Regions from separate parts of the Homo sapiens genome. Here all the other regions are linked to region 3. Evidence: fine-mapped QTL for protein levels in blood plasma. A gene starts in region 3. Each other region holds a variant in brackets. All regions are shown on one strand. Distances are between the middles of the regions.

Region 1 (10,427 bases), 33 kb before region 3:
CAAGGCTTGGGGCTTCCACCCTCTGAAGCCACAGCCTGAGCTCTACACTGGCCCCTTTTAGCCATGGCTGGAGCAGCTGGGATGCAGGGCACCAAGTCCCTAGGCTGCACATAGCATGGGGACCCTGGGCCTGGCCTACGAAACCATTTTCTCCTAGGCCTCTGGGCCTGTGACGGGAGGGGCTGCCATGAAGACCTCTGACATGCCCTGGAGACATTTTCCTCATTGCCTTGTGGCTTAACATTAATCTCCTTGTTACTTATGCAAATTTCTGCAGCTGGCTTGAATTTCTCCTCAGAAAATGAGATTTTCTTTTCGATTGCATTGTCAGGCTGCAACTTTTCTGAACTTTTATGCTCTGCTTCCCTTTTAAAACTGGATGCCTTTAACAGCACCCAAGTCACCTCTTGAATGCCTTGCTGCTTAGAAATTTCTTCTGCCAGATACCCTAAATCATCTCTCTCAAGTTCAAAGTTCCACAAATCTCTAGGGCAGGTACAAAATGCCACCAGTCTCTTTGCTAAAACATAACAAGAGTCACCTTTGCTCCGGTTCCCAACAAGTTCCTCATCTCCATCTGAGACCATCTCAGTCTGGATTTCATTGTTCATATCATTATCAGTATTTTTGTCAAAGCCATTCAACAAGTCTCTAGAAAGTTCCAAACTTTCCCACATTTTCCTGTCTTCCTCTGAGCCCTCCAAACCGTTCCAACCTCTGTCTGTTACCCAGTTCCAAAGTTGCTTCCACATTTTGGGTATCTTTTCAGCAACGCCCCCCTCTACTGGTATCAATTTACTGTATTAGTCCATTTTCACGCTGCTGATAAAAACATACCTGAGACTAGGAAGGAAAAGAGGTTTAATTGGACTTACACTCCCACATGGCTGGGGACACCATGGTGGGAGGCAAAAGGCACTTCTTACATGGCGGCGGCAAGAGAAAATGAGCAAGATGCAAAAGTGGAAACCCCTGATAAAACCATCAGATCTCATGAGACTTATTCACTACCATGAGAATGGTATGGGGCAAACCACCTCCATGATTCAAATTATCTCCCACCAGGTCCCTCCCAGAACACGTGGGAATTGTGGGAGTACAATTCAAGATAAGATTTGGGTGGAGACACAGAGCCAAACCATATCAACTTGGGAGAAGACAGAATATGAGTTCACTGTTCAAGGTCACACCACCTGGAACAGTGCTGGGACCGGAATACAGTCCTCACTGGATTCCAGCCTGCGTCCTGACCACATTACCCTCTTACTCTTCTGCCCCTGAAGCTATCAGAAGAGGGGAGGAGAGGGTCTCCTGAGACCCCAGCACACTTGTCAGCGGCTCTCAGACTGCAGGAAGATTGCCTGGGCCTCCCCAAAATGCAGATGGGCCCCGTCCTCAGGGATAAGACCCAGCAGCTCACAGGCAGCCAGAAAGGTGCATTTTATTTAATTTAAATTTAATTTAATTTAATTTAATTTTTAATTTTTATTATTTTTAATTTTCTCAAGACGGAGTCTTGCTCTGTCGCCCAGGCTAGAGTGCAATGGTGCAATCTCGGCTCACTGCAACCTTGGCCTCCTGGGTTCAAGTGATTCTCCTGCCTCAGCCTCCCGAGTAGCTGGGATTACAGGCACATGCCACAACACCTGGCTAATTTTTTGTATTTTTAGTAGAGACGGGGTTTCACCATGTTGGCCAGGCTGGTTATTTTATTTTTGAGATGGAGTCTCACTGTGTTGCCCAGGCTGGAGCGCAGTGGCGCAATCTCAGCTCACTGCAACCTCCGCCTCCAGGGTTCAAGCAATTCTCGTGCCTCGGCCTCCTGAGTAGCTGGATTACAGGCATGCGCCACCACGCCCGGCCAATTTTTGTATTTTTTAGTAGAGACAGGGTTTCACCATGTTGGCTGGGCTGATCTCAAACTTCTGACCTTAAGTGATCCACCTGCCTCAGCCTCCCAAAGTGCTAGGATTACAGGCGTGAGCCACCGTGCCCAGCCCAGAAAGGTGCATTTTAAATGAGTTCCCAGGAGTTTCTGGTGCACAAGGTCCATGGGACACACTCTACAGGCCCCTGGGAGTTAACGTAGCCTCAGCTGCATCAGGGCAGGACAGAGGCAATGACAACAACAGTAGGGAACTTCCCTGCCTTTTTAGAGCCCCCAACAAGCAGCAAGCTCTCAGTGGGCAGGGGAGGGGTGACTGTTTTTCCCATCACACAGTGAGTGCTGCGGATGGAACTCAGGCTCTTTGTTGTCTGGACCCACCCCAGCACCCCAGGACCTCTCACCTGCACGCG[T/C]ACACCTCCTGCGGGGGCTGGGTGTTGGGGGTCATGATCCAGGGCGCCACGCGGAAGACCACGCTGTCTTGGAACACCACAGCCTCGGGGAGCTCCTGCAGGGGAGGGGGTAAGGGGAAGGAGGGGCTGTCACCGCTGCCAGGGCCCAGCACCTACCACTTCCTGCAGCTGTTTGGAGTCCCCCTGCCCAGCTGGGCTCTGTACCCCTTTCCCTAGCCAGGCCACTGCCTGGAAGCCCAGGCCCCCGATGCAGGGCTGCCTTCTCGGCCTACCAGGTTGGACGTGTCCAGCAGGGAGATGGTGAGGGTAATGAGCCCCGGGAAGTCGGTGTCCGGGAAAGCGAGGGCCTCCACGTAGAAGTCCATGTTGTGCTTTCCACCGGGGACCATCAGGTAGTGAGAGGGCCACTTGGGACCCAAGACTACGCTGCACTTGGAGGACAGTTTGCCCCCTAGGAGAGAGGCAGGGGAGACTCAGGTCTGCGTCCCCACTTCTGAAGACTTTTCCTCCTCTCCTTAGTGCTCCCCAGAAGCCTTTCCCAGGGTCACCACATGGCACCATCAGAGAACCCCTTGCAGCCAAATCTGGCCAGTCCCCTTAGGAGAAAAGGACTGAAGTTCTAGCTGGGACGCTGCTCCCCGGCTGAAGTCCCAGAAGGGTGTGGCAGGGGTGCCTGAGCTATTCCAAACTTTATAGGAAGTCCAGTATACACCATTCCTTCACTCATTCCTGAGCATCTGCTCTAGCCAGATGTCAGCGGGGGACAGGGGCACAGCAGGGGACCAGGGAGACAGAGTCACTGTCCTCCTATCCTCACCCCCAGAGAGTGCACAGTCTTACGGGTGAGTAGGGAGAAGCAGAGATCATGAAAATAGCAGACAGCTGTGATAGAGGGAATCCCTGAGAACTTCCTGGAGGAGGTGATGCCTGGGTGGAGGCAATAAGTTGACCTGTCACCAAATCAGTGTCAGTTTAATCACTTTAAGAATGAAACAGGCCGGGTGTGGTGGCTTACGCCTGTAATCCCAGCACTTTGGGAGGCCGAGGCAGGAGGATCACAAGGTCAGGAGATCCAGACCAGCCTGGCCAACATGGTGAAAGCCCATCTCTACTAAAAACACAAAAAAATTAGCCAGGCATTGTGGTGGATGCCTATAATCACAGCTACTCGGGAGGCTGAGGCAGGAGAATTGCTTGAACCCAGGAGGTGGAGGTTGCAGTGAGTTGAGATTGCGCCACTGCACTCCAGCCTGGCGACAGAGAGAGACTCCATCTCAAAAAAAAAAAAAAAAGAAACAGAGGCTGGGCATGGTGTCTGTAATCCTAGTGCTTGGGGAGGCTGAGGCAAGTGGATCATTTGAGGTCAGGAGTTCGAGACCTGTCTGGCCAACCTGGTGAAATCCCATCTCTACTAAAAATACAAAAATTAGCTGGATGTGGTGGCACATGCTTGTAACCTCAGCTACTGGGGAGGCTGAGACAGGAGAATCTCTGGAACCCAGGAGGTGGAGGCTGCAGTGAGCCAAGATGGCACCACTGCACTCCAGCCGGGGCAACAGAGTGAGACTCTCTCAAAAAAAAAAATTAAAAAAAAAAAAAAAAAGCTTGGAATAGACCAGGCAGAATGATCAGGATCAGAATGATTGTCAGGCCCATGCAAAAAAAAAACCCTCCCATGGCGCTCTCCATCTCCTTCCATCCAGAAGCCAAAGTCAATATACGCCTACCTGACCTCCCCCTTCCCCTCTGCCCTGTCTCTTCCACCCTCATCCCCCACTTTAACCCTTGCACATTCCGCCCCAGCTGCACTAGCCTCCCTGCATTCCTCCAAACCACAGGCATGATCTCACCTCAGGGCCCACGCACTTGCCGTTCCCTCTGCCTGGAACGCCCTTCCCCTAGGTGTCTGTCTGGCTGTTCCTATACCTCCCTCTGCTCACATGGCACCTCATGGGGGACACCTTCCCTGGCCACCCTCTCTCCACACAACCCGAACTCCACTCCTCACTCCACATCCCCTTCCCTGCCGCATTCTTCTACATAGCATGTCACAGCGTTGGACACACTAGGTGTTTTATGTAATTATTTTACCTATAGTTCTCCCAGCCACTAAGATGAAAGCAACACGAGGGCAGGGACTCGGTCACAGTCATGGCTCTGTGCCCCGTGCCTGGGATCAACCTGGCACCTACTTAGTTGCAGGTGCTCGTGGGTCACTGAGAAGTTCCTGATGTCTCTGATTAGCAGGATGTTGCAGAACAAATGATTACATGCCACATGCTGTCAGCTTGCACTCAAAGTCTATAACCAGGAGGTGTGTGTGTGTGTGTGTGTGTGTGTGCGCGCGCGTGTGTGAGAGAGAGAGAAAGAAAAGCAGGGAGCAATAACGAGTCATTTTGTCTGTGTCCTCCAACTGGAAGGTAGTAGACGAGATGTCGTCTGTCTTGCCCACTGCTGCGTCTGCTGTTCTTAGAACTTGGCACATAGTAGGTGCTCAGGATTTATCTGCCACACAGCTGTGTGACAGGATTGTGCCCCGTTGGCCAGGGCAGGAGGGGAACAAAGATGGGGATGACTTACGTGTGGCCTGAAACACCCTCACTTTGTCCATCTCAGACCTGGCCACGTGGAGCACCAGTGTATGGTTTGTGAAGAAGTCCTTGGGGGTCTTCGTGCTCAGGGTCATCAGCGACATGTCCTGCAGGTCTGGGATGAGAAGGGCATTGCCTGAGTCACAGGGCCCTGAGACCGCTGCTGGTTTCCCATAGCCACCTCACCTCCTGGTGGAGCCTCACACCCCACCGCTCCCCTGAGACCTCCCTTTACCATGTTGCCTGGTTTTCTTTTCTTTATGCTATTTTGAGTATTTAAATGATGGTTTTCATTTTGGAATGAGAGCTCATTAAGGTTTTGGTCTCCTCCCACTAGGATGAGCTGGGGATGTAACCTCAGCAAAGCGGGGACCACATTTATTAATATTTTGCTCCTTGCAACGTTCCCTGAATCTTGAACCTAGAAAGCCGAGAACTCCCTAGAACAATGACCAGCAGGCGGCAGGCGCTCGGCTGAGATTTGTGCAATGAACGAGTGAAAGGTTTCTGTGCTGGTCCTGAGCAAGAAGTGGGGTTTGTGAACCAACTTGAACAATAGCCAAGAAGGGGTAGAGGGTGGGGAGAGTGAAGAGATGGTTCCCAAGGGACTGACTGATAGCCAAGGGCTTAAAGGCTTTGCGGTCAATTTGGTTTGAATCTGGGATCTGGGTGGGCTTAGGAAACGGATTTCAGCTTTCTCTGCCTCTGTTTCCTCATCACTAAGACAGGGGCAAGAGTTGTACCCACCGTAGAATGGTTGTGAAGATAAAGTCAGGTGATACACAGTGCTTATACCAGCTCTTGGCACCCCGGGAGTGCCCACAAAGGACAGCTGTTGTGATTATTACCGCATGTCAGGCACTGTACAGAGGCTGTCCCCTGGCATCGGGCCAGGCCAACTACATGCAACTTGAAAATACATCCATTTCTATGTTATTCTAAGAGCTCCCCAGGAAGGCCTGCCAGCCAGAGCCCCTTAGCACCTTCCTCCAGCGCAGGTGGATAATGTTTCCTCACTTCAACCCCGGAGCCACCCCCTTAGCAGCCCAGAGGTTTGCCTGCAGAGATCCTGCATTCCCCACCATCCTCATGCCTCTAAACCTGCTCCGGTGTTGGGACGTCCGGGGTTCAAACCCCGAGTCTGCTACGTGTCAGTGCTGTGACCTTGGGCAAATTGCTTAAGTTCCCCGTGCCTTGGTTTTCCTACCTATAAAGGTTTGTGTTGGAAGATCAGATGAGTTAATCATTCCAAAGTGGTCAGAGTCGTGCCCGGCCTATGGCAGAGGTCTCAGGGCCTGCTCTGATATGAGTTTGGGAATGAAAAGCTTTCATTTCGAAGGATTTCAGGCTCCAGGTTTGACCTAAGAGCGTTTAGGTTGGGCAGCAGGGTGAGGCATGGAAACCAGGGCCTGTAGGAGGCATCAGGAGACAGCACTGGCCTCAGCTCTTCCCTGACCGCTGCGTGAGCTTGGGGAGGTCACTTGACCCCCGAGGGCCTTTGCCCATTGCTTCACCTATAAAACAGATTTGCCAACAAGAAGATGCTTTCAATAACCCTTATTTCAGAGGGCCGTCACCAGGTTCAGGCTATGTGGGCAAAAGGGCTTTATAAAAAGCCCTTCCCGTTAGCTAGCAAATGCTCTTTACCTTCGCTGTCAAGCACTTCATCATCCTCGCAGTCCATGGCAGAAGATTCGAGATTGTCTCTGTCACAGTTCACCAGCAGGATGGCACCCTGTCCACAAGGGCCCCAGGTCCAGGTCCTCTGGACACCAGCAGGGAAGAGTCATGCTCAGAAACTAGCATAGAGCCCTCCAACTCTTGCAAGAGGCATAGCAACTCCCCATCACCTCTTTTTTAAAATTTATTTATTTATTTATTATTTTTTTGAGACGGAGTCTCCCTCTGCTGCCAGGCTGGAGTGCAGTGGCGTGATCTTGGCTCACTGCAACCTCCACCCCCCAGGTTGAAGTGATTCTCCTGCCTCAGCCTCCTGAGTAGCTGGTACTATAGGCGCATGCCACCACACCTGGCTAATTTTTGTATTTTTAGTAGAGATGGGATTTCACCATGTTGGCCAGGATGGCTCAATCTCTTGACCTCATGATCCATCCTCCTCGGCCTCCCAAAGTGCTGGGATTACAGGCATGAGCCACCACGCCCGGCCCCCATCACTTCTTTAACCCAGTGCAGTTTACACATCTTGCTTCCACATCAATTAATTATTTGATCTCAGGAGTGGATTTTTGCCTTTTACTCCAAAAGTCACAACCAAATTCACCCAAAACACAATTCATCCATTTAAAAAAAGGAGCCCAAGACAGTCACATGGATTTTAACAGCTTTTAAGAAATGTTGGCTGGGCGCAGTGGCTCACACCTGTAATCCCAGCACTTTGGGAGGCTGAGGCAGGCAGATCACCTGAGGTCAGGAGTTCAAGACCAGCCTGGCCAACATGGCGAAACGCTGTCTCTACTAAAAATACAAAAATTAGCTGGGCGTGGAGGCATGCACCTGTAATTGCAGCTACTCAGGAGGCTGAGGTAGGAGAATCACTTGAACCTGGGAGGCGGAGGTTGCGGTGAACCGCCCCTGCACTCCAGCCTGGGAGACAGAGCATGACTCCATCTCAATAAATAAATAAATAAATACATAAATACATAAATAAATAAATAAAATGTTGAGCTTGACAAACCAAATGCAGCTAAATATGTATGTCAATATTCTAATCTAAATAGTTACTATTATGTGAACTCTTAATTACTCATTCAGCAAAGTGTGGTACTATTCTTAGCAGCCAGTTAATATCTGCCTAGAGATTAAAGCACATTAAGCAGCCCCACCCTGTAGGGATCTAATAGTGATGGCGCCTCCCTTCGCGGGAGAGCGTTTGCCCCTGGGAAATGACTGCATTTCGGGAGGGATACAGGGACAGATTCTACTCCTAGAGTTGTAATTTGTCTTCCCACTTTTGCTGACCCCACAAAGGATCTTCATCTTTTTACAGGGCACAGCCCCCAGTGCACACCAGCATAAAATGGTGCAGGCAGCTCTGGGGTTTCAGGTTTACCTGCAGACTCTGGTTTAAGACAGCGTTCACCTGCCCTTTCTGCACATCCCATCATCCTGTCTTTCCACAACACACCCTCCCTCTCCCCACCTGGCTCCTTCCCGCCTCTCCCCCTGCCATTTCTTCCTTTCTCTGTTATTCCCCCATGTAGACAGCTCTGCAGAAATCTCTCCCATATCAGCTGTAGAGCATGGAGTAGGGAGTTTTTGAGCCAGAGTCGAGACCTGCCCACGAATTTCCTCTCTGCTGTGTATTAACTGGGTGACTCAGTAGGGTTTCCAGTTTGTAGGATAACACATCTGAACCCACAATTGGTGAAATTCTGATTTTGTAAAATAGATGGGAAATACATAAGCCAAAATATTAATGGTGATGCTAATTTTCTTTCTTTTTTTAACAGTTAACACGGAATACGTGGGACAGGCCAGCATTTGCCCCATCACCACAAGGGGGCGCCCGGGGAGAATCCAGTAGAAGTAGGAAAGGAGCGTTTGGGTGAGTGGTACCTGATCTTTCACAGCTCTGGTTGGCTTCACTTTGCCGGTGCGGGTGATGTCTGCGCACAAGGAGATTTCTGAAATCCCATCAAGTAAGAGGAGAGGTTGGTGAGGGTCCGGGGTTGGGGCACCCAGCCTGGCCCTGAATGGGCAGGTCGTTTCCCCAGGGGACTGTGTGCACCCATAGTGTGAGCCCCTCTTCCCGTCCTTCAGAGGAGACACAGGTTCAAGACATCCCTCCTCCACGGCCCCCAGGAAGTCTGGCTACAGTTCGGACAGCAGAGCTGGGGCCTCTGACCACACCTGTTCCCCTTCAGCGGGGCCACAACTGTGATGTCCACCAGACCCTGCACGTCTGGCCACCCCCAGGGATTTTGGAAGGAATTCCCAACCACCACAATGAGAGGTTCGATGTGAAGCCTCTGCAGGCACACCCTGCCAGCCTCTCGAAAGACTCTGGCCCCAGCCCTCAGTGACCTTGGGGTGGGGGACCCAGCGGTGACACCAGCCCCACGGGCTCTTCATGACATGTGTTGTGACTGTATCTGGGGACAAATTGCAACCCTGAACATGCCCCCACTCTGTCCAAATGGCTTGGCTGAGAAAGCAAACATTTGTTTGTAAATCCTTCCTCCCTCATCCGAATATATGACTGCAAGGTCATTCCAATAAAATAGATCCGTGTGCCCCACAGCATGATATGGTGACCCTTGTCCCACATGAGACTGACCCAGATGACCTTCTAAACATATTCATAGCCACGTCTTAGTTAGGGCCGGGGAAGCATTGTCCTTTCGTGGCCTGGACTTCCTGACTCCTTCACTAACCAATTGCATGACCTTGGACAAGTCTGTTTAGCTCTTGTGCCTCAGTTTCCTCACCTGTAAAATGGGATGATAATAATAATACCAATTTCACTGGATTGTTGTAAGGATTAAATGTAAAGTCTTAGCACAGTGCCTGGCAATTGAGTAAGTGCTGTAGTATTATTACTTAAATATGCATTAATGAATGAAATGCATTAATGAAATGAAACCTGAAGATTCTATATGCTACATATTATATATATATGTGTGTGTATATATATATTTTTTAGTTTTTGAGACTGGGTCTCACTCTGTCACCCAGGCTGGAGTGCAGTGGCACAATCATGTAGTCTTGACCTTCTGGGCTCGAGCAATCCTCCCACATCAGCCTCTTGAGTAGCTGGGACTACAGGCACATGCCACCATGCTCAGCTGTTTTTTTTTATTTTTTGTAGAGACAGGATCTCACTATGTTGCCCAGGCTGGTCTCAAACTCCTGGGCTCAAGCGATCCTCCTGCCTCCGCCTTCCAAAGCGCTGGGATTGCAGGTGTGAGCCACCATGTCTGGCTGCTACTTATATGTTTAATACACATAATGATACTAATCATGATATTATTGTTCAAAATGAGGTCAAGTTTAAGAATGGATTTTATTTAAAGAAGAACATTACATAAATATGAGTATAGGTGGATCATTGATATGGCAGAAATGGTGAAGATGAGATATAAATAATGGAATTTGAGGAACACTATCTATATTCTTGTATAAGACAGTGTCATTATCTACTTTTTGTTATAGATATTTGAGGTATCAAAAAGGAATAGAGGGCCTGGCGCAGTGGTTCATGCCAGTAATCCGAGCACTTTGGGAGCCTGAGGCAGGCAGATCACCTGAGGTCAGAAGTTCGAGACCAGCCTGGCCAACATGGTGAAACTCCATCTCTACTAAAAATACAAAAATTAGCCAGGCGTGGTGGCAAGCGCCTGTAGTCCCAGCTACTAGGGACGCTGAAGCAGGAGGATCGCTTGAACCTGGGAGACGCAGGTTGCAGTGAGCCGAGATCATGCCATTGCACTCCAGCCTGGGTGACAGGGTGAGACTCCATCTCAAAAAAAAAAAAATTAATGGAGATGCATATATTGAAAATCCAAGTTCCTACTTCCT
Region 2 (10,427 bases), 44 kb before region 3:
TTATTGGGGGAAACTGAGGCACAGAGTCACTAAGGTAAGTAGAACAGAGCTTAGCCTCAGAAAGCACTGCCTCTTGAGTTAGATGAGATGCTGGTATTCTGGGTACACATGGGGCTTAGAGCCAGTCTGACCTAAGTCGGTGATCTCTTGTTAGCCATGTGGCCTTGGGGACATTCCTTCACCTGTTTGAGCCTCAGTTTTCTCCTAAAAAAAAAAATTAGTGTTGCAGTGCCTTGTTCTTCCTCACTTTTTTTTTTTTTTTTGAGACAGAGTCTTGCTCTGTTGCCCAGGCTGGCACAATCTCGGCTCACTACAACCTCCGCCTCCCGGGATCAAGCGATTCTCTTGCCTCGGCCTCCCGAGTAGCTGGGATTACAGGCATGCATCACCAGGCCCAGCTAATTTTTGCATTAGTAGAGACGGGGTTTCGCCATGTTAGTCAGGCTGGTCTCGAACTCCTGACCTCAGGTAATCCACCTGCCTTGGCCTCCCAAAGTGCTGGGATTACAGGTGTGAGCCACTGTGCCCAGCCTCTTCTTGTTCAATAGGTTCTAGCCATCCTGGCCTTGCACGCAGGAGCTCATTCCTGCCTCAGGGCCTTTGCACATGCACTTTCATTTGCCAGGAACTCTCTGTCCCAGATCTCCAGGTGGCCCTGTCCCTTCTGTCATTAGGCCTCAGTTCAAAAGCCCCTTCCCCAGAGAGGACCTCCCTGGTCACCCTAACAGTTCCTATTCCTCCCGTGCCCCTCTCTTTTGTTTTTGTCATTTGAAGTTATCTTGTCTACTTTTCTATCATCTGTTTCCCTACTAGAGTAGTGGTAAGGACTTGTCTTTCTTGTCCACGGCTGCATTCCCAGCTCCCAGAACATTTTGGATGCTCAGTAAATATTCACTGACTGAAAGAGGGTAAGTGGCAGGGCTGGAATTGAACTTGGGTCTATGGGCTCCAAAGCCCGCATTCCTCACCCTGCGCTTGGATTCCTCTCACACTCCCTCAAGTCTGTTGGGCTGTCTAGAATCGGAAGCAGGAAGGCAAGGCTTCCACTCTGGCCTCTGCTTTTCTACGGCATACCTGGGTCCTGGCCACCCCTTCCTGTTACTCCCCTCCTTACCTGGGATAACAGCTGTCCCCGAAGAGAATCCTGCCCAGCGGGTATTCCTTGCCCCTGACTGTGACTGGGGGGCTCACTTCCAGGTTCCCAAAGGAGTCCAGTCCACTGATACCCCCTGTTTGGGGCCCTCGAGTTACATAGCCAAAATCTGGACCCTGAGATAGGAGAAGGGAGTGCCAAGAGTTAGAGGAATGAGGTCCCTGGTGAAGGGTCGGGGGGTCCAAGTTTAGAGATGAACTTGGGCACAGGAAGTAACTCAGTACCGTCTACAGCTGGCACATAGCAGGTGCTGTTATCACATGTGGAAGGTTAAAGGAATGTTGAGTTCATTCAATGGACAAGAAAAGGGACTAGCATTTGTTGGGTCCCTAAAGCGTGCCAGCTGCTTGGTAAACCTTAACTTGGGCATAAAACAAATCTGTAAAACATCATTTTTTTTCCCCTTAAGACAGAGTCCCACTCTGTTGCCCAGGTTGGAGGGCCGTGGCATGATCTCAGCCACTGCAACCTCCGCCCCTGGTTCAAGGAATACTCCTCAGCCTCCTGAGTAGCTGGGACTACAGGCACGCCCCACCACGCCCAGCTAATTTTTGTATTTTTTTTTTTTTTTAGTAGAGATGGGGTTTCACCATGTTGGCCAGTCTAGTCTCGGATTCCTGACCTCAAGTGATCCATCTGCCTCGACCTCCCAAAGTGCTGGGATTACAGGCATGAGCCCCCACGCCCAGCCACATTTATTCTCTTAAAATTCTGGAGGCCAGAAGTGTGAAATCAGTTCCACTGGGCTTAAGTCCAGGGATGGCAGAGCTGGTTCCTCCTGGAGGCCCTGAGGAAAGAATCTATTATATTTCCGTGTCTTTTTCAGCTTCTAATAGCCGCCTTGGCTGGCAGCCCCTTCTTCCACCTTCAAAGATCTCCAGTCTCTGCTTCCATCATCACAGGCCCTCCCGCATTCCAGGATAAACCAGGATAATCACCCCATCACAAGATCCCTAATATAATTACATTCAGCAAAGTCCCTTTTACCATATAAGGAAACATCAGGTTCGGGGGGACTAGGATGTAGAGGGGCCATTATTCAGTCCACCGCCCATCTCCCCTGCCTCCCAGGAGAGGGTACATCTAGCCTTCTACACATAGATGGTCCATTCCCTGAGGCTTCATGGGGGCCATGAACTCCCTGAGAGTAGACGCCAAATTATGTGCCCAGGTGTGAGTTTCTGGGAAGATGAGTGGGTCTTAAGGAGGTCTGTGATCTTCAAATTTACTTCTTCACTGCAGTTTTGACCTCCTGGGCTCAAAGGATCACGGTCCCGTCTCAGCCGCCCGAGTAGCTGGGACCACAGGTGCATGCTATCACAACCTGGCTAATTTTTAAAGTTGTTCTTTCCTGTAGAGATGGGGTCTCACTATGTTGCCCAGGCTGGTCTCAAACTCCTGGGCTCAATCTTCCTGCCTCGGCTCCTAGAGTGTTGGGATTATAGGTGTGAGCTACTGCGCCTGGCCTGATTCCACAGATTTAACAATCACACTTCCAGTTCCTCTCTCCACTTCTCTCTAAAACCCAGACCAACCCGCTTCTCCCGCCCATCAAAGCTTTCCTTGTCCAGGTCTCCATGAACACATGGCCATATCCCAAGTGCAATGCGCGGGCCTCGCCTTCCCCTCAGAAGCCCCTGAATCAGGCGGTCACACCTGTGTTCTCCGCACACTTTCTGCACTTGGCTTTCAGGACACCGGGGGATCCTGGTTCACCTCCAACCTCACTTGCCCCTTCAGTCGTCCTGCCAAGTCTCATGGAATTCCGTTCCCGAGCCGACAACCCTCATGTTCGCATCTCTGGGCATCCCTTCCCTCCCAAACATCACATGTGTATCCACGCTCACTTGACTTCCCATTTGGATGTTGACCAATTGTCTCCCACTTGCCCTAAACAGAACTTTGGGTCCCCTCTTCCCACCCCCTCATTCTCCATCAATCTGTTCCTCCTCCCACAGTCCTCCCCTCCCAGGGGATGGTGCCTGCCACCCACAGAGGTCACAGCCTTGCTGTCAGCTTTGGCTTGCCTCTCTCATAGCGGGGGTCAGAATGCCCTGCTGGCTCTGCCTTCCAGACATAGCCGGAATCTCATGGCTTCTCACCTCCTCTGGCCACACCCTGCCTGCACTCCCAGCATCCCTCACCTGCCCACTCCCTTGCCCCTTGCCTCTGTTCTCTTTACTCAACAACACATAGCAGGGCTTGTTCCCTTTTCTAACAAACCAGATCATAATCCTCCTCTGTTTAAGACCCTGTGATGATTCTCAGTTTCTAAACAAGCAGCCTTAACAGTAGCCAACAAGCCCAACCCCATCCGGTCATCCCGTCCCTTCCCCATCACCTCTGACCACAGCCTCTTCTACTGCCCCCCATCTCCTCCCATCACCTCCTTGACCACCTCTGCTACCACCTCCCATCTCTTCCCTGACCACCCCTCTTACCACCTCCCATCTCCTCCCTGACCGCCTCTCCTACCACCTCTCATCACCTCCCTGATTGCCTCTCCTACTGCCTCCCATCACCTCTCTGACCACAGTCTCTCCTACCACCTCCCATCACCTCCCTGACTGCCTCTCTTCCCACCTCCCATCACCTCCCTGACTGCCTCTCCTCCCATCACCTCCCTGGCCGCCTCTCCTCCCATCACCTCCCTGACTGCCTCTCCTCCCATCACCTCCCTGGCCGCCTCTCCTCCCACCTCCCATCACCTCCCTGACCGCCTCTCCTACTGCCTCCCATCAGCTCCCTGACTGCCTTTTCTACCACCTCCTATCTCCTCTCTGACTGCCTCTCCTCCTGGTTGCTCTGCTCTACCCCTCCAGGCCCTCTTGCTGTTCTGGAACACTCAAGGCATGCTCCTGCCCCAGGGCCTTTGCACTGGCTGTTTCACTGCCTACAACACTCTTCACCCAGACACCCACTCACATGGCCAACTCGCTCACCTCCCTCAAGCATCTGCTGCAAGGTCAGCTTCTCCGTGAAGCCCACCCTGACCATCCTATTTAAGAACGCAATCTTTTTTTTTTTTTTTTTTTTTTTGAGACCAGGTCTTACTCCTATTGCCCATGCCAGAATGCAGTGGTGTGATCATGGCTCACTGCAGCCTCACCCTTCAGGGTTCAAGGGTCCTGCCACCTCAGCCTCCTAAGTAGCTGGAACTATAGGCATGCACCACCATGCCTGGCTTATTTTTATTTTTATTTTTAATTTTTTTTTTTTTTGTAGAGACAGGGTTTGACTATGGTGCCTAGGCTGGTCTCGAACTCCTGGGCTCAAGTAATCCACCAGCCTTGGCCTCCCGAAGTGCTGGGATTACTGGAATGAGCCACCAGACTCGGCTTTAAGAATGTAACCTAATCCACCTTCCCTACCACGCTGGCACCTATGAGCCCCTCCATTCCGCTCTACTCTGTCTTTCCCTGTAGCTCTTTTTTTTTTTTTTTTTTTCCTCTGGGACAAGGTCTCATCTGTCACCCAGACTGGAGTGCAGAAGTGCAATCATGACTCGCTGCAGCCTTGACCTCCTGGGCTCAAGCGATCCTCCCACCTCAGCCTCTCTAGTAGTTGGGACTACAGGCATGTGTTACCATGCCTAGTTAATTGAAACAATTTTTTTTTTTTTTTTGTAGGGACAAGGTCTCATTATGTTGCCCAGTCTGGTCTCAAACTCCTGGGTTCAAACAATTCTCCCACCTTGGCCTTCCAAAGTGCTAGGATTACAGGTATGAGCCACCACACCTGGCACCTGTAGCTCTTGACATCCCCTTCTAAGGAACCATATAACTGCTTTGTTCTATTCATTGTCTGCTGTCTGTCTCTCTGGGCCAGAACGTCCCCTCCGTGAGGTCAGGGACCTTGGCGTTGCTCCCTGTCATATCTCAAGTGCCTAGAACAAGGCCCCGCTGAGTATGTGTTCAAACAGTGTTTGATGAATGAATGTAAATTCAGCCACATCACTGCCCTGGCTGTTGTTGTGAGAGGGGGTCAGTTATACAGCCTTCAGCCTTGGATTTCTGCAGGCAAATGAAGGCATATCCATAGTCTGCAGAAGTGGCCCCCCAAGAGTGGGCTGTGTGGGGGACGCTCATGGATGCCAGGTGATGCGGCCTGAGGCACAACGTTGGAAAGCTGTTGCCCTTCTCATTTTCCTCCAGTCTTTTCTGGTTCCTCAAAAATTCAAGTTTCAGTGATGCAAACACATCCTTGACACCTGCTAATCCCTCATTTTAACCAGCAGAGAGCTGACCTCGAGCTCAGAGATGCTGCAGTCACTTGTAACGAGCTGGCTTTGGTAGCAGGATCTTGTTTCATTCTGTTTAACTTCACAGTTGCCTTCTATCTGCAGGAAGTGCTGCTGGTTTCCCATTGATGGTGGTGATAGAAAATTTACTGACGATGCTTACAGGAAGAACAACCACTGTGTGTGAAGCTTTGTGCCAGCTGCCCGATGGACAGCGTAAGGCATAACAGCCTCAGGCCCAGCAGCGCAGGCAACGAAAAGTAGATGAACGAGTCCATGATTTTAACAAAATACACTGAAGAAGTCAACAGGGGGCTGTAGTGGAGAAGGCTAGGAGTTGGGGTGGGAGTAGGGATCCCTCTTTTAGCATCAGGGAAGGCCTCACTGAGTAGGAAATAGAAGCTGAAACCTGAAGGCTGAGAAGCAGCCAGCCCCGTGAACAGGGAACAGCACTGCAAGCAGAGGGAACGGCATATGCAAAGACCGTGAGGTGGGGAAACGTTAGGCAAGTTTGAAGAACAGGAAGGAGGCCAGTGGAGGTGGGGCTGGGTAAGGGACAGCGAGAGTGGCCTACAATGGTGCTGGAGAGGCAGGTGGGGCCAAAGCCTGGTGCTGAGTGTGACTTTTTCTCCAATTCTCTTCATTCTGAGTGATTTGGGTGTTTTTTGTTGTTGTTTTTTCTTTTTCTTTCTTTTTTTTTTTTTTTGATACAGTCTTGCTCTGTCACCCAGGCTGGAGTGCAGTGGTGCAATCTCGGCTCACTGCAACCTCTGCCTCCTGGGTTCAAGGGATTCTCCTGCCTCAAACTCTTGAGAAGATAGGATTACAGGCACACACCACCATGCCCAGCTAATTTTTGTATTTTTAGTAGAGACGGGATTTCGCCATGCTGGCCAGGCTGGTCTCGAACTTCTGACCTCAGGTGATCCATCCTCCTTGGCCTCCCAAACTGCTGGGATTACAGGTGTCAGCCACCACACCTGGCCTCATTCTGAGTGATTTGAGTTGGAATACACAGATGTGCTTAGCTGAGGGACCAGTGCTGCCTGCCTTCATCCAAAGTTGTCTGTGGGAAAGGGGACAACAATGGTGCCGAGGTGTCCGTCTGTCTGTCCAGCAGGACTTGTGGCATCAGAAAATCTGGCCTTTGTTATACTTGGAGCATCAAAGTAGACACAGCCACTGAACCAGGCAGGACTGAAAGCAGCAGAAAGAGGGCAAAGTCACGGTAGCAGCTGGCTGGTTCGCCCCAACGCTGCTGAAACAGGATGAACTCGACCCCATGGCTGAGTACACACTGTGAATCCAACAGCATCTCTGCATCTCCACTGCTCAGCGCACAGCTTGGCCAGGAGGAAGCGAGACTCGGGACAAGTTGTTGAGTTTAACTGAAGTTTCATTCTGAAGCCTTCTGTGTGGGCAGGGCCACTCTCCCCTCCCTTGGGGCACAGTACAGATGCTTGTCGGAAAGCCATTTGTCCTAGCAAACCTTGGACCCCACACTCCTTCCGTCGTTTTCCCTGGGCACCTTGAGCCAAGGGGCTGCCAGGACTCAGAGCGCAGGCCTGGGGTCTTCCTGGGAAAGCAGGGAGAGGGAGGCAGGGCGGGGAAAAGCATGCTCACCAAGCCGGACTGGCCGGGTTTGAATTCCAACTTCTCCACTCTGAGCCTCAGTTTCTTCTTCTATAAAATGGGCCTATTGATAGAATCTCCATAACAGTTTATCAAATTAAATGAGTCAGTGCAGGTAAAGAATGCAGCACTGGCTAACACACAACTCATTCTCAATAAATGCAACTATTATTATTATTGTTCTGTGCTGAGTTTGCATCAACCTGCCAGGCTAGTCAAGCATGAGTCAGCAATACGTCACTTCCCACCTCCACATGGACAGCCTGTGGCTGATAAAGTCACACCCAGGAAATGACCACTGATCCACTGATCCCAAAATCCCCCATATCCCAGATGGAGCCCCTGAAGACCAAACACCACCCATAAGACAGAGCCTCCAGCTGGGCATTGGGAAAGATTCCAGCCCCGGCCCCACCTCCACCTTGCAGCAAGAGCTTCTTCAAGAGCACAGGGAGGTCCAAGCCTGAGCCACCTCCTCGGCAGGGTTACCTGGAGATCAAGCTGAGCTCACGGGTGACAAGGGTTTTGGGAAATGAAGAGCCAGATCTTATCTTGGTAATAAAAAAATAACAAGCCCCACCTACATGCTCCCACTTTGGTAGGAATTCCACCTCCTTGCACTGGGCTACTCAGCTACAGGCGCGGGCGGGGAAGGCAGGCTAAAAGGAGGGAGTCTCAAGACAAGAGGGTTTCGGCAGCTGTGCCCCCTCCCCACCCCATGCAGGTACCATCACGCGTTTGATGGGAAACTCCTTCAGGCCTCTGTTCCTTGGAGAGTCGAAGACCACGGGCAGCGTTTTGTGTGGGGCTTGGATGTAGCCGATCTCCATTTCATCCTGTGGGAGTGAGTGGAGAGGAGGCTGTTGCGC[G/A]TGCTGCCTGGGTCTTGGTGCCCGACGCCAGGATGGGGGCATGAAACCATCCACTCACTCTCACCCTTGCAGTCAAGGGCACATTCCTATGGGATGTTTGATCTCAGAGAAGGGGCTCAGAAGCGGAGCTTATTGCCCCCTGTTTGCCCAGTGCACGAGAGGCCATGAGCCTGCAGGAGTGCCCTTCCCTCCTACTCCTGGTGGTGCCTGGGCCAGTGCTGGGGACCCCTGGTGAGCAAAACTGAGACCCCTCCTCAAGGTGAGAAAACAAGGGAGCCAGGCAGTGGGCACCAGGGTTAGGAGGTGATGGGGGGTGAGGGGTTGAGGGGTCTGTGGGGACACAGAGGAGGGGCTCCTGATGCAGCTAGGATGGGCCAGAGAAGACCTGTTGGCGCCAGAGCTCGCGGCCTCCTCCCCAAAGGAGGGCAGATAAGACCCAGCCTGGGCCACTGGAGCAGCAGGAGGAGCACGGGGAGGTTTCAGAAATGAATCTGCTGAAAATTCCGCCTCCGCAGGCTTGTATTCTAGCAGGCAGGTGTGATGTTGGACATAATCACTACTATAAGTTACTATTAGGATGAACCAGATGAAAGTTCCACTCTTGCAAATCAAAAATGGCACATATCAGCAATTTCACACAGGTCAACTTGGTATCAAAAAAATGGAATGGCGGCCAGGTGCAGTAACTCATGCCTGTAAGCCCAGCACTTTGGGAGGCTGAGGTGGGTGGATCACCTGAGGTCAGGAGTTCGAGACCAGCCTGACCAACACGGAGAAACCCCATCTCTACTAAAAATACAAAATTAGCCAGGCGTGGTGGCACATGCCTGTAATTACAGCTACTCAGGAGGCTGAGGCAGGAGAATCATTTGAACCCGGGAGGCAGAGGTTGTGATGAGCCGAGATCGAGCCATTGCACTCCAGCCTGGGCAACAAGAGTGAAAAAAAAAAGAAAAGAAAAGATGGAATGGCAAGAAAGGAAGAAAGGATGTTGTGTGGGGGTGAAAAGAAAGAGGGATGAATTCCTGCTGGGGGTGATGGGGGAAATTTATGGACGAGGAGCATTTGTGCTGGGATTCACCGGTATGGATTGGAGATGGGGGATGGGAATGGGGAGATGGGTCCAAGAGACAGCACCGCAGGGGTGCGGCATGGAAGGACAGGGTCCCGAGGCAAAGCAAGGCAGTGGTGGGGAGGGTCAGGGTGCTAGGCTGGATGAGGCCCAGTCTCAGTCCTTGGGGCACTCCTGGCATGATGGGGGAGTGGCACGGAAACAGAGACTGGTAATCATGTGTTTCCAGGCACAGTGGCAGGCTGGCCCCAGGGAAGGGAACCAGGCAGGCTGAGAGGGCCTGGAAACAGACTAAGCAGGAGGAGATGGGAGCCATGGAAAGTGCTGGAGCTGGGGTGTGACCTGCTTTGGTGGCTGGGCCCAAGATGGACAGCCTGGAGGGAGGACCACTTGAGGGGCTGGTTGAGCACCAATCTCCTGAGCTTCACATCATTTCCTGAGGCCACCTGAGTGTTTTCAAGCAGGAAGGTGGCTTCATCTTGGTGACTGCAGTGGGCCTGCAGTGGCCCACAGCAAACGTCAGATGAATCACTTGCTTGAGCCTCCCGGCCCAAGGATCTCTCAGGTTCCTATCTCCCTGTCCATCTAAGGAAGAGTGGCCGGTGAGGCACCAGGCTGAACCCCAGGAGCCCGGGTCCCCCAAGTGTCTCTTGGCCCTCAGGGACAGTCACCCTGCCTGCCCCGCAGGGCACATACCTGCATCCACTGGTCATCCATGTTCTCCTCCTCAGGGCAGATGGTCAGCTTGCACTTGGCTTTCATGGCCAGAGTAGTCACTGACTTCAGGAAGTCCTCATTTTCAAAAATACTAGAGAGAGCAGAAAAGCAGCTCCTTAGTGCTCTGGAATTTGAAGCTCAGCCTGGAAGGATTGGGAGGGACACACAGGTGGCTCAGGGGTCACCTGTGGCCTGAACAGAGGCTCCTGGCACGTCCGGTCCATCTGCTCTTAGCAGGCATTAGCTCATGGAATCCATCTAACAAGTTATGAGGCAGGAACTAGTGGGTACCCCTTCCACCCGTGTATTAGTCCGTTTTCACGCTGCTGATAAAGACATACTTGAGACTGGGAAGAAAAAGAGGTTTAATTGGACTTACAGTTCCACATGGCTGGGGAGGCCATGGTGGGAGGCAAAAGGCACTTCTTACATGGCGGTGGCAAGAGAAAATGAGGAAGAAGAAAAAGGAGAAAAACCTGATAAAACCATCAGATCTCATGAGACTTATTCACTATCATGAGAACAGTATGGGAGAAACTGCCACCATGATTCAAATTATCTCCCACTGGGTCCCTCCCACAACACTTGGGAATTATGGGAGTACATGTCAAGATGAGATTTGGGTGGGGACACAGAACCAAAGCATATCATCCTGCCCCTGGCCCCTCCAAATCCTATATCCTCACATTTCAAAACCAATCATGCCTTCCCAACAGTCCCCCAAAGTCTTAACTCATTTCAGCA
Region 3 (10,427 bases):
AACCTTGGAAATAAACCTCTGAAAATGATTGACACTCACTTTAGTCATTTTCTTTGATTTGCATTGGAAAGGGGACCCCTCTGCCAGACACTTTGTGTGCATTATATAATTCAATCTTCGCCGTAACCCAGGAAGGGGTGTTAATTTTCCCATTTTACAGATGGGTAAACCGAGGCTCAGAGAGACAAACAGACTTGTCCAGGCTCCCCACTGTCATGCCAACTGGTCTATTCAGAAGGAAACCCGGCTGGGCGCGGTGGCTCAAGCCTGTAATCCCAGCACTTTGGGAGGCCGAGGCGGGTGGATCACGAGGTCAGGAGATCGAGACCATCCTGGCTAACACGGTGAAACACCGTCTCTACTGAAAATACAAAAAAATTAGCCAGGCATGGTGGCAGGCGCCTGTAGTCCCAGCTACTGGGGAGGCTGAGGCAGGAGAATTGCGTGAACCCGGGAGGTGGAGCTTGCGGTGAGCCAAGATCTTGCCACTGCACTCCAGCCTGGGCTGGACAGAGCGAGACTCCGTTTTTAAAAAAAAAAAAAAGAAGAAGGAGACTTTGGGAGGAAGAAGAGAGACCATAGATGGCAGCTTCTGAATGCACACTGCCCTTTGCAGTTGGCACCTCCTGGACCCCCACCCCTTCTAGGCCTTTACCAAATCCTTTGGAAGTTGAATGAGCTCTGCCCACAGGGAGCAGTGCCCAGGGGAGTCCACTCCCCAGCATTTGGAGGCAGGGTGGGCTGCGAAGCAGGGTGGGTTTAGGGTCAGACAGTCCTGGCTTTGCCACCTTTAACTTTTTTTTTTTTGAGACAGAGTCTCACTCTGTTGCCCTTGCTGGAGTGCAGTGGTGCAATCTTGCCTCACTGCAACCTCCACCTCCCAGGTTCAAGCAACTCTTGTGCCTCAGCCTCCTGAGTAGTTGAGATTACAGGCATGTGCCACTACTCCCATCTAATTTTTTTTTTTTTTTTTGAGACGGAGACTCACTGTGTTGCCCAGGCTGGAGTTCAGTGGCACAATCTCGGTTCACTGCAGCGTCCGCCTCCTGGGTTCAAGCGATTCTCCTGCCTCAGCCTCCCAAGTAGCTGGGACTATAGCTGCGTGCTACCACGCCCGGCTAATTTTTGTATTTTTAGTAGAGACGGCGTTTCACCATGTTAGCCAGGATGGTCTCGATCTCCTGACCTTGTGATCCGCCTGCCTCGGCCTCCCAAAGTGCTGGGATTACAGATGTGAGCCATTGCGCCCCGTCTAATTTTTTTGTATTTTTAGTAGAGACGGGGTTTCCCCATGTTGGCCAGGCTGGTCTCGAAATTCTGACCACAAGTGATTTGCCCATCTTGGCCTCTCAAAGTGCTGGGATTACAGGCATAAGCCACCGTGCCCAGCTTGCCACCTTTAATTTATGTGACCCTCGGTTAGGTGTTTTTGCCTCTTTTTTTTTGAGACAGAGTCTTACTCTGTCACCCAGGCTGGAGTGCACTAGCCCAATCTTGGCTCACTGCAACCTCTGCCTCCCGGGTTCCTGACTTTGGGGACAGAGAGAATGGCTTGAGCAAAGTTATGGAGGCATGAATATGAGGGGCGGAGGTGAGGAGGGAGTGGCCCTCCCACCTGTGTGGTTCAGGAAGAGGCCGATGGCTGCTCAGGAGATGGGAGGGAGGCGCTGTCTGGGGCTATGTTAAGAACAGATAAGAAGTGACAGGAAGGTCTGGAACGGAGACCCATGGGGAGAATGGAGGGTCCTAGAGTCAGGCTGCCTGGGTTGAGTCCTGGCTCCCCTACTTATTAGCTGTGTGGCTTGAGGTGGGTTACTTAACTTCTTGGAGCCTCTGTTTCCTCTTTTGTAAAATGGGAATAACAACATTACCTGCCTCCCAAGGCCATTGAATGAGTTGAATGTAGGAAGTGTGATGTAAATATTAGCCATTGTTACGTGAGATGTTCAGGGGATAGAGTGACAGGCTCAACGTGTGGCTGAAGGAGGAGAAAAGAAGGATTTAGAGGCCCCTGTGAACTCCGGAGTCCCCATCCTTTCTGGGAGAAATGGGCAGTGCCTTCCTCTCTGCCCAACACTGACCAGCTGTCCACCCACCTCTCTAGGGCCAGAGGAAGCACTTGTGATCTTGATTACTACTCATGGACGCTGGGTAGAGGGCTAGCCTGGGCATGCTGGGAGAGGCCCTGGGCTAGCTTCAGCTCCTGTCATTTCCTTCACACCCATTCTCAGAGGAGTTGGGGGCGCCTCAGATGATGTCAGGTGATTTTCTTTTTCCTTTTCTCCCCAACTTCTTGGTCTCCTGCCTCCACCATGTGGCCCTGGGAGACCATCCCGACATTTCCTGCTGTTCTCTGGCTGCTGGGGCTCAGGCAGTAGCAAAGAAATGTCCCCGGCACTCCTGTGGGCACCATTCTAGGGCCACCGATGCCCAGACTGGGATGGGGAAGCCAGGGGCAACCACTCCTATTCCTGACAACAGCAATTGTTGCAGGATAATTTAGGAATCAGAGAGACCGAGGGGTTGAGGAGGATTTATTATTTAGATTCACTGGCTCAGTCAGGCTAACATTTCAAAAGACTGAGCCCTGAACAAAGAGTTAAGTTATCTTTTAAGCATTTCATGGGGCGGGGGTAGATCTGTGCAGGGGGAAGCATATTATAGAGGCAAGAAACAAAGACAGTTATTTAATTGAGACATGCATTATATTATTTTTTACTTTTTAAGGAAAAAAATTTTTACAGCTTGAGTTTATCTGTCTAGTGACCTTGCAGCTGCACAGCTGGAGAAACAGGGTCTTTACAATGCCTGGAAAAAGAGGAGCAATAAGGCTCACTAGCCACAAAAAAACAGGCAGTTAATTTTTAAGGGACTCCAGCTCTTTTTTTTTTTTTTTTCCAGGGAAAATTGTTTTTTTTTTTTTTAACATAGAACTGAGTTTTTGCTTACACGTTTTAAAATTTCTTTTAATTCCTGTTCTACAATAACAACAATGACCCTGCACACTCCCCGAGAGCATTCCTCAACTCTCTTGTTTAACCCAGACCCTGCCACAGAGCATGGCACTCAGCATTTGTTAAATGAGTAAATAAAAACTACCAAGGATGGGCCCACCACTGTGCTAAGTACTCAGCCAACATCTGCACATTTTTTCACATTGAATTCCTATAACCAGCCCATGATGTGAGTATTATCCCCATTTCACAGATGAGGCAACTGAGGCTCAGTTGCCCAAGGCCTCCTTGCTAGCCAGCAGCAGGTCCAGGCTTCCTACCTCAGTCTCTGCCGCCACAGAGCCCCGTTTCGCCATCCCCACCCACGCTATTATGCACCCACTGAGGGAGGCTTAGCTAAGAGATGTGGGGTAACAAACTGTGCTGTGAACCAGGAGGCCCAGGGGCTAACCTTACTTCCAGGGCACACGTGCTGTGTGACCTTGAGCAAGTCACAGACTCTCTGTAAGCTTCTGTTGCCTCGATGAAGACAGGGAGATGGATGGCCTGGTTTGCCCCATAATAATTTATCTGTCGTGTGTTCCTGGGGAATTTGCACTTGTACATGGCAAAGAACCCACAGCCATGAGACTGGCACTTCCCAGGGCTGCTGGGGTCTTCTCTCTCCAGCTACTCCCCTGGCAGTGGCTGCAGAGGCTGGAGCCTAGAGCCTGGGCCAAACACATGCTCCTGTGTCAGTAGAACTGGGTCATCCAGCATCTCCTGACCTGCCTCCAAAACCCCAGAAGGCCCCCCTCTTACCTGCAGATGTCAAGCTGAGTCAAGGTGCCCAGCACACACACGGCATGGGTGGGCTGCTCTGGGGTCACACGGATCAATGTCCCCTGGGCCATCGTCGGGCTAGCTCGTCCCTCTGGCTGTAGGAAGCCCCTGGGCTGGTTCCTTTATATCGCCCAGCAGAGGCCATGAGTCAGCACCTGCGGTCTGTGGCCCAGAGGCTCAACCCCTCCCCACTCAGGTCAGGGGTGTGGGCTCTCAAAATCTCCTCTGCCCTGGGGCTGCCCCTCGGACCTCTAGATGGGTGTCAATGCTGGTACCAGTGGCAGGGTGGCTCTGTCAGTTTCTTGGGAAGGATGGATGGCTCAGAAAGCCTGGGGTGGAGAGTGGGGCTGAGGGGTTGGGTCCTGGTCCTCATGCCCACAGTCCCATCCCTGCCTAGAGGCCCTGAACACCTTGATCTATCCAATCTCACCTATGTCAAACAGGCATATCAGAGAGGAGAAGGTGGGAAAAGCGGGGAGATTTTAGGTAAGCAGTCACAGGCCAGGCTACACGTTCAAAGACCAACCAGGCTTGGGACAAGTCTCTCCACCTGGGCCACCCACATGACAGCTCACATTCTCTATGCCAGGCACGTTTTCCTGCACTTCACATAGAATAGCTCATTACGACAAACCCGTGAACTAGATCATACCATTATCCCCTTATTTCACCCTCACAGCAGCCCTCTGAGGTTGGTGCCATTATTATACCCATTTTACAGAGGAGAAAACAGAGGTGCAGTTCTTCCACAGCTCGAGAGTGGTAGGGCCAGAATTGGAACCAAAGGTGTCCAGTTCCAGAGTGTGAGATTCATTAGCTGCCTGTCTATATGACACGTGCTTTCCAGACTGTATCACAGCTACATCTCGCTACAATACAAGGTGTATATGGGCTTATTATTACAACCCATTTTACAGAAGGAAAATTGAGGCTCAGAGAGTAAAAGTGACTAGCTCTTGCCCAAGGTGCCAGAGCTAGAATGCGGCAGAGCTGGGAAGAGAAGATGAGCTTCCTGGCATGGAAGTTGATGTTCTCTGCATGCTCCAGGATACCTGCCTCTTGCCAGGGCCTCTGGGTGTCAGACCAGACAGTGCAGGTGTGGGCCACGCCTGCCAGGGGGATGCCCATGTGGCCTCAGAGCTGTGGTTGCACCTGGGCCATTGGTGCCAGGCTCTGCCTTTAATGAGGCAACTGGGGGGTGGTGGATGGGTCCCAACAAGGAGCACTCAAAGGGTGCATGCATGGGAGTCTGGCGTGAACATAGAGCGTTTCGTGGGTTGGATATCTTGCGTTTGTTTTTTGTTTGCTTGCTTTGGCTTTGAAGCAAAGAATTTGCCTCATTAATTCAGAGTCAGGCTGTGGGATCAAACAGGCTTTAGTTCAAATCCTGCCTCATCTCAACATCCCTATGGAGTGCGTCCTATCAGGATGCCCATGTGTAGATGAGACCACAAAGACTTAGAGAGATTGAGTGAGACCCCCAAGGTCTCATAAGCCCTACAGTGGGGATCTGGATTCAGACCACCTTCTCTGGGCTCAAAATTTATCTTCTGTACCAGCAGATGATGATGTGGCCAGGTCCGACGTTCTGACGCATCTACATGACTGCCTGCACACAGTGTTAATAAACCCAATTTCTCTGGCTGACCGCATGATTAGAACTAGTTTGAGCTTCTACTGGGAAGTGGCAGGAGGGAGCTGTCCATTGTTAGAGTTGGGAGGGCCCTTAGAGAACACCCAATCCAGTCCTCGTTTTGCAGAAGGGGAGACTGAAGCACAGAAAGGGAGTGGGACCTGCCCACGGTCACACAGCAAATCAGAGGGAGGGCTGGCCTCTACCCCAAGTCTTAGGTCTCTTGAGGTTGTTTTCTTCTGTTCCTTCTTTTCTTTCTTATTTTCTTCAGCAGTTTGGGGTTTAAATTTGCTGTGAACGAGCCACAAAGAGGACGAGCCCCAAAGCAGTTTTGTTAATTCAACAAATACTGACTGAGTGCCTATTGATGGCCAGGCACTGTTCCAGGCACCGTGGATACGCTGTGAACAAAGTGGACAAAAATCCTGCCTTCATAGAGCCTTTTTGTTTGTTTGTTTTTGTTGGGAGAGAGACAGCCAGTAAGCAATAAATGCAGTAAGTGGATTCTATCGTATGTTAGTGGGGTAGAAAAAGGAAAAAGGACAGGGTAAAGGCTACCAGGAACACAGGGAGAAGGTTCCAAGTCAAGAGAACAGCCAGTGCAATCGGTACAAAGGCCCTGAGGCAGGGACATGCCTGGCGGGTTCAAGAAAGAGCAAAGAGGCCAGTGTGGCTGAAATGCAGTGAGGGAGGGGGAGAGCAGCCCAGGGCGGGGTGCGATCATATAGGGCCTTTCGGGCATCCTAAGAGCTTTGGCCTCTGCTCCAAGTAACGTGGGGAGCCTGGAGTCATTTTGAGCAGAGAAGGACCGCGAACCAACTTGCTTGAACGTGATCACTCTGGCTGTGATGTGAGAACAGACTGTAGGGGACCCGGGAGGAGGCCAGAAGACCTGTGAGGTGGCCGCTGCACACAGGCTGGTGACAGACGGTGGGGCTCAGGCTAGCGTGGTGGCAGTGGAGGAGGGGAGGATGGGTCAGGTTCTGGACATTTTGTGATGCAATACAGCCAATAGGAGTTGCAGAGGGACTGGATGAGGGGTGTTAAGAAAGACAGAGGGATGGAGGAGGACACCGCAGTTTGGAGCCTGAGGCCCTGGAGGGATGGGGCTGCCCGCAGCTGGGCAGGGAAGGCTGAGGGAAGGGCGGGGGGTGGGCATGGTGGAGATCAGGAGTTTGGTCCTGGCTTTGCCAAGTGTCATTTGGTGTGATGATGCCCTGTAGGACGTTTGAACACATGATTCCGGAGCTTAAGAGACAGGACCAGGCTGAAAAGGATAAAACAGTGAGATGTCAACATCTCCAGCTCCCCTAGGGAATGAGTGAGGATAGGGAAGAGAGAAGGCCGAGGGATGAGCCCTGGGGTCCTCCACCAGAGACCCAGGGGAGTGATGAGGGAGAGGAGATGCAAAAGAGAATGCATGCTATTTGCAATTACACAGGGAGCAATGCAAAACTAGGTTTGTAACACACACACACACACACACACACTCACTCACACTGAGGGAAAACGGCTGCACTTTGGAAGCAAAGCCTCTTTGTAGAAACACACTTGGTCACTCACAGTGGAACAAGGGCCACGGGCTCTGTGATGGGCAGGGCTGAGGGCAGGAGCCAAGGGCAGTGGAATGAGAGGCCAACAGACTTGGGGCTGGCGCGTGCCCCACCTGTGCCTGCAGCTCCAGCTGCATCCTGACATGGCTGCTCCCCTACTGTTGGACATGGGGGCTGTCTGCAAGTTTTCAGTGTCATAAACCATGCAGCGATGCATCACTTGTGCCCGTGTCTGTGGTTATTTGCAGGTATGTTGTAGATTCATCTTTGCCCCTCTTTAGTTTTTTGGCAGAGCGCTTCATTCTTTTCCTGAGATTTGCCACACCTTGTGTTTAAATGCCCATCCCCCAGCTAGCCTGAGAGCAAGGCCAGTGCCTAGACTTGTCACTCAACACTGGTGGCTTAACGCCGTGGCTGTTTGTGTTCCCAGCACCCAGCCCAGTACTTGACCCAGACAGGATCCTGTGAAGATCCCTGAGAACCCGGCCTGGCTGTTTCTTTTGCTGATGGCATTAACCCTTTCAGAGCCCAAAGGGGACCTTTGGGGTTGGGGAGTGAACTCTCTTATACATGGTGAGCGGCTCAGGATCCAGGCCAGAAACCCTGGAGGAAGAGGCCTCTCTTCCTGCTGAAAGGCAGAATCACCAGCCCAGCTCACGCAGAGGAAGCAAGGGTGTTCTGGGTGTTGCCAAATACCCTCTAGGCATTTGGGGCCCAGAGGGCTGAGGCCACCTGAGCTCCTGTCCCAGAGACTGGCTGGCTAGCCTGCTCCAGTTGATTGCAATGACATCATTTGGGGGAAAGGAATTAGGGTCAGAGGACTCTCCCAGTGGCTCTGTGTCTGGGTATAGTGCAGTGCTGTTCTTACAGCAGATAGCCTAGCTCTTGCTTCAGCATTATTCATGCATAAGTACAGTTCATTCCCAACACTGAGCTGTTCATTCAACAAATATTCACCGAATGCCTCCTAAGTGCCTGGCCCTCGCTTAGAAGCTAACCTAGGCTTTGTTTAACATAAATGTAGAAGCACCCAGGGTGATAATAGAGACCACCATCTATTAACGCCTGCTATGTGTTTACCTGTCACTAGGTCCTTGGGCTCTATTATTTCTAATTCTCACCATTAAGTGGGGCAACAGGTACAATCTCATTTCTACAGAAGAGTGAAGCACCAGGCTCAAGGTCACACGGCCTCTAGGGGGGTTTCAAATTTGGCTTCATCCAACATGCCATGCCCTGGTGTAGCCCTGACCTATGCCAGGTCCTAACATGCATCATCTCTAATCCTCACAGCAACCTTAACATCTCTCCCCGTTTTCCAGGTGAGGAAACCGAGTCTCAGAGGAGTTAGGTAACCACTCAAGGTTACGCAGAAGGAAGTGGTGACACTTACGTTTAATTTTGCGTGGTCTAACTCCCAAGCCCCTGCATCCTCGTCCACTCTAGGGCTATGCAGCTGCCCCCAGGCCAGGTCACTTGGCCAATGAATTCTGAAGACCCTTCCAGCACAAAGAACCCTGGTCTCTCAGCCTCTCTGAATTCATGACTTCTAGCAGAACACTGGAGCATGTCTAGATCATCCAGGCTGGCTGAAACTAGAAAATCCCTCCTCCTGTGGATCATCTGAGGTCAGGAGATCAAGATCAGCCTGACCAACATGGTGAAACCCTGTCTCTATTAAAAACATAAACATTAGCTGGGCGTGGTGGCAGGCACCTGTAATCCCAGCTACTCGGGAGGCTGAGGCAGAAGAATCACTTGAGCCCAGGAGGCAGAAGTTGCAGTGAGCCGAGATCATGCCATTGCACTCCAGCCTGGGTGACAGAGCAAGACTCCGTCTCAAAAAAAAAAAAAAAAAGAAAAAAAAGAAAATCCTTCCTCCTGCAAAGTGTTCATCCCGGAGCCCCCTGCCTGCTGTGTGTATTGCAGGGGCAGTCTTTTCTCCTCTCTGTTCACACAGCTCTTCCCTGCCCCCAGCATCTCTCCTTTCTCTCCCTTGCAGAATCCTTCTAGGTTTTGGAAGGATTCATGGGCACACAAGGGCATAATCATGACTCTAACATGTGCCAGGCTCTGCCCTGCACTGGAGCCCATTCATGTGAACAATACACTAACCCAGTGAATGTCAGTCATTGACAGATGAGTAGCACATTAGGGGCAGAGACAGGAGATGGAGCCCAAATCTATCTGCATCAAAAGCCTGCAACCTTCCCCTCTGCCACCTTTGAGAAAAGGAAGGGGACCAGTCAGATGAAGGCAAATGTCTCTGCATTCCCTTTCTGGAACTGGCTCCTACCCAACCCTTGACACCAGGTGCTTACATTTCTTCTCTGGCACCCAGGATTTCTCCTGGGGACCAAGACCATGAGAATGTGAGTGACATGAAAGCATGGACTTTGCTTTGCTCACTGTTATCTCCCTAGTGCTTAGGACAGGGCCTAGCACAGAGTAGGTGCACAAGAAATACTGTATTTTACTGAATTTATGACACTATTTATTTTAAGATACATTCCTTCCTCTAGCATCGTCTGTTGAAAAGACTCTCTTTCAACAAATTGAAATTGAATTGCTTTTGCATCTTTGTCAAAAATTGTACATGTTGGGCATACATGTGTGGGGCTATTTCCAGGTTCTATATTCAGTTCCATTGATCTGTGTCTGTTCCTCCAATAATACAACACAATTTTGATTACTGTAGCTATATGATAAATCTTAAAATTGGGTAGTATATTAGGCTCTTCCTGCCTTGCTATAAAGAAATACCTGAGACTGGGTAATTTATAAAGGAAAGAGGTTTCATTGGCTCATGCAGGCTTTACAGGAAGCATGGTGCTGGCATCCTCTTGGCTTCTAGTGAAGCGTCAGGGAGCTTTCAGTCATGGTGGAAGGTGAAGCAGAATGCAGACACTTCACAGGACGAAAGCAGGAGCAAGAGAGAGAGCGAGCCTGGGGAAGTGCCACACACTTTTAAATGACCAGATCTCACAAGAACTCACTCGCTATCACAAAGACAGCACCAAACCATATGTTGGGGTGATCAGACCCAAAACCAGGTCGTGGGGGCGACAAAGTCTGGCAGAGTCAAAGGAATGAGAAAAAGACCTTTTGAGAGAGCAAGTGGGACCAGGGGGCCATTGCGAGTGTGAAGACTGAGAAGGCCCTGAGCTCTGGGAGCCCACACTGTTTATTGGTGCTCAAACAAACTAACAGGTGGTGAGGATGCAAACAAACAGGTGGTGAGGATGTGGGGGTTGAAAGGAAACAGTGTATCAAGTGAATGAAAAACATATGGCTGCTTGAGATAATGGGAGTGCTAGAAGCAAGCAGCCAGCAAGTCTAGCAGACATGCAAGCCCTGCCTCAGCTTCTCTCCCAACACTCAGCTTTTCTCCCAACATGCCCCCCTTCTCTTTTTTGGGGGGGCACTCCCAGGCTGGAGTGCAGTGGCATGATCTCGGCTCACTGC

Evidence for each region. PIP is the chance, under the fine-mapping model, that this variant and not a neighbour inherited with it causes the effect. Protein levels are from antibody-based Olink assays in UK Biobank. Linkage for the fine-mapping came from a reference panel and not from the study's own genotypes, which makes the PIPs less certain.
Region 1: its variant is fine-mapped to the plasma level of the PADI4 protein (UK Biobank, PIP above 0.99). The variant lies in the coding sequence of PADI4. If it changes the protein, the assay may bind it differently, which can mimic a change of level.
Region 2: its variant is fine-mapped to the plasma level of the PADI4 protein (UK Biobank, PIP above 0.99).

Annotation. Positions count from the first base shown.
Region 1 is chr1:17,334,265-17,344,691 of GRCh38, reverse strand. It overlaps PADI4 (peptidyl arginine deiminase 4), which reads right to left. Exons shown (of 16, transcript NM_012387.3): 4 at 8,466-8,533; 5 at 6,537-6,654; 6 at 4,879-5,004; 7 at 2,571-2,749; 8 at 2,290-2,393. Among named protein-coding and RNA genes, the nearest start is that of PADI4, 31 kb to the right of the region's middle. The variant T/C (reference allele first, on the strand shown) is at 2,299.
Region 2 is chr1:17,345,375-17,355,801 of GRCh38, reverse strand. It overlaps PADI4 (peptidyl arginine deiminase 4), which reads right to left. Exons shown (of 16, transcript NM_012387.3): 9 at 9,663-9,774; 10 at 7,754-7,861; 11 at 1,115-1,269. Among named protein-coding and RNA genes, the nearest start is that of PADI6, 22 kb to the left of the region's middle. The variant G/A (reference allele first, on the strand shown) is at 7,895.
Region 3 is chr1:17,301,643-17,312,069 of GRCh38, reverse strand. It overlaps PADI4 (peptidyl arginine deiminase 4), which reads right to left and starts at 3,873. Exons shown (of 16, transcript NM_012387.3): 1 at 3,756-3,873. The coding sequence starts at 3,847. RefSeq lists an enhancer at 6,691-7,551.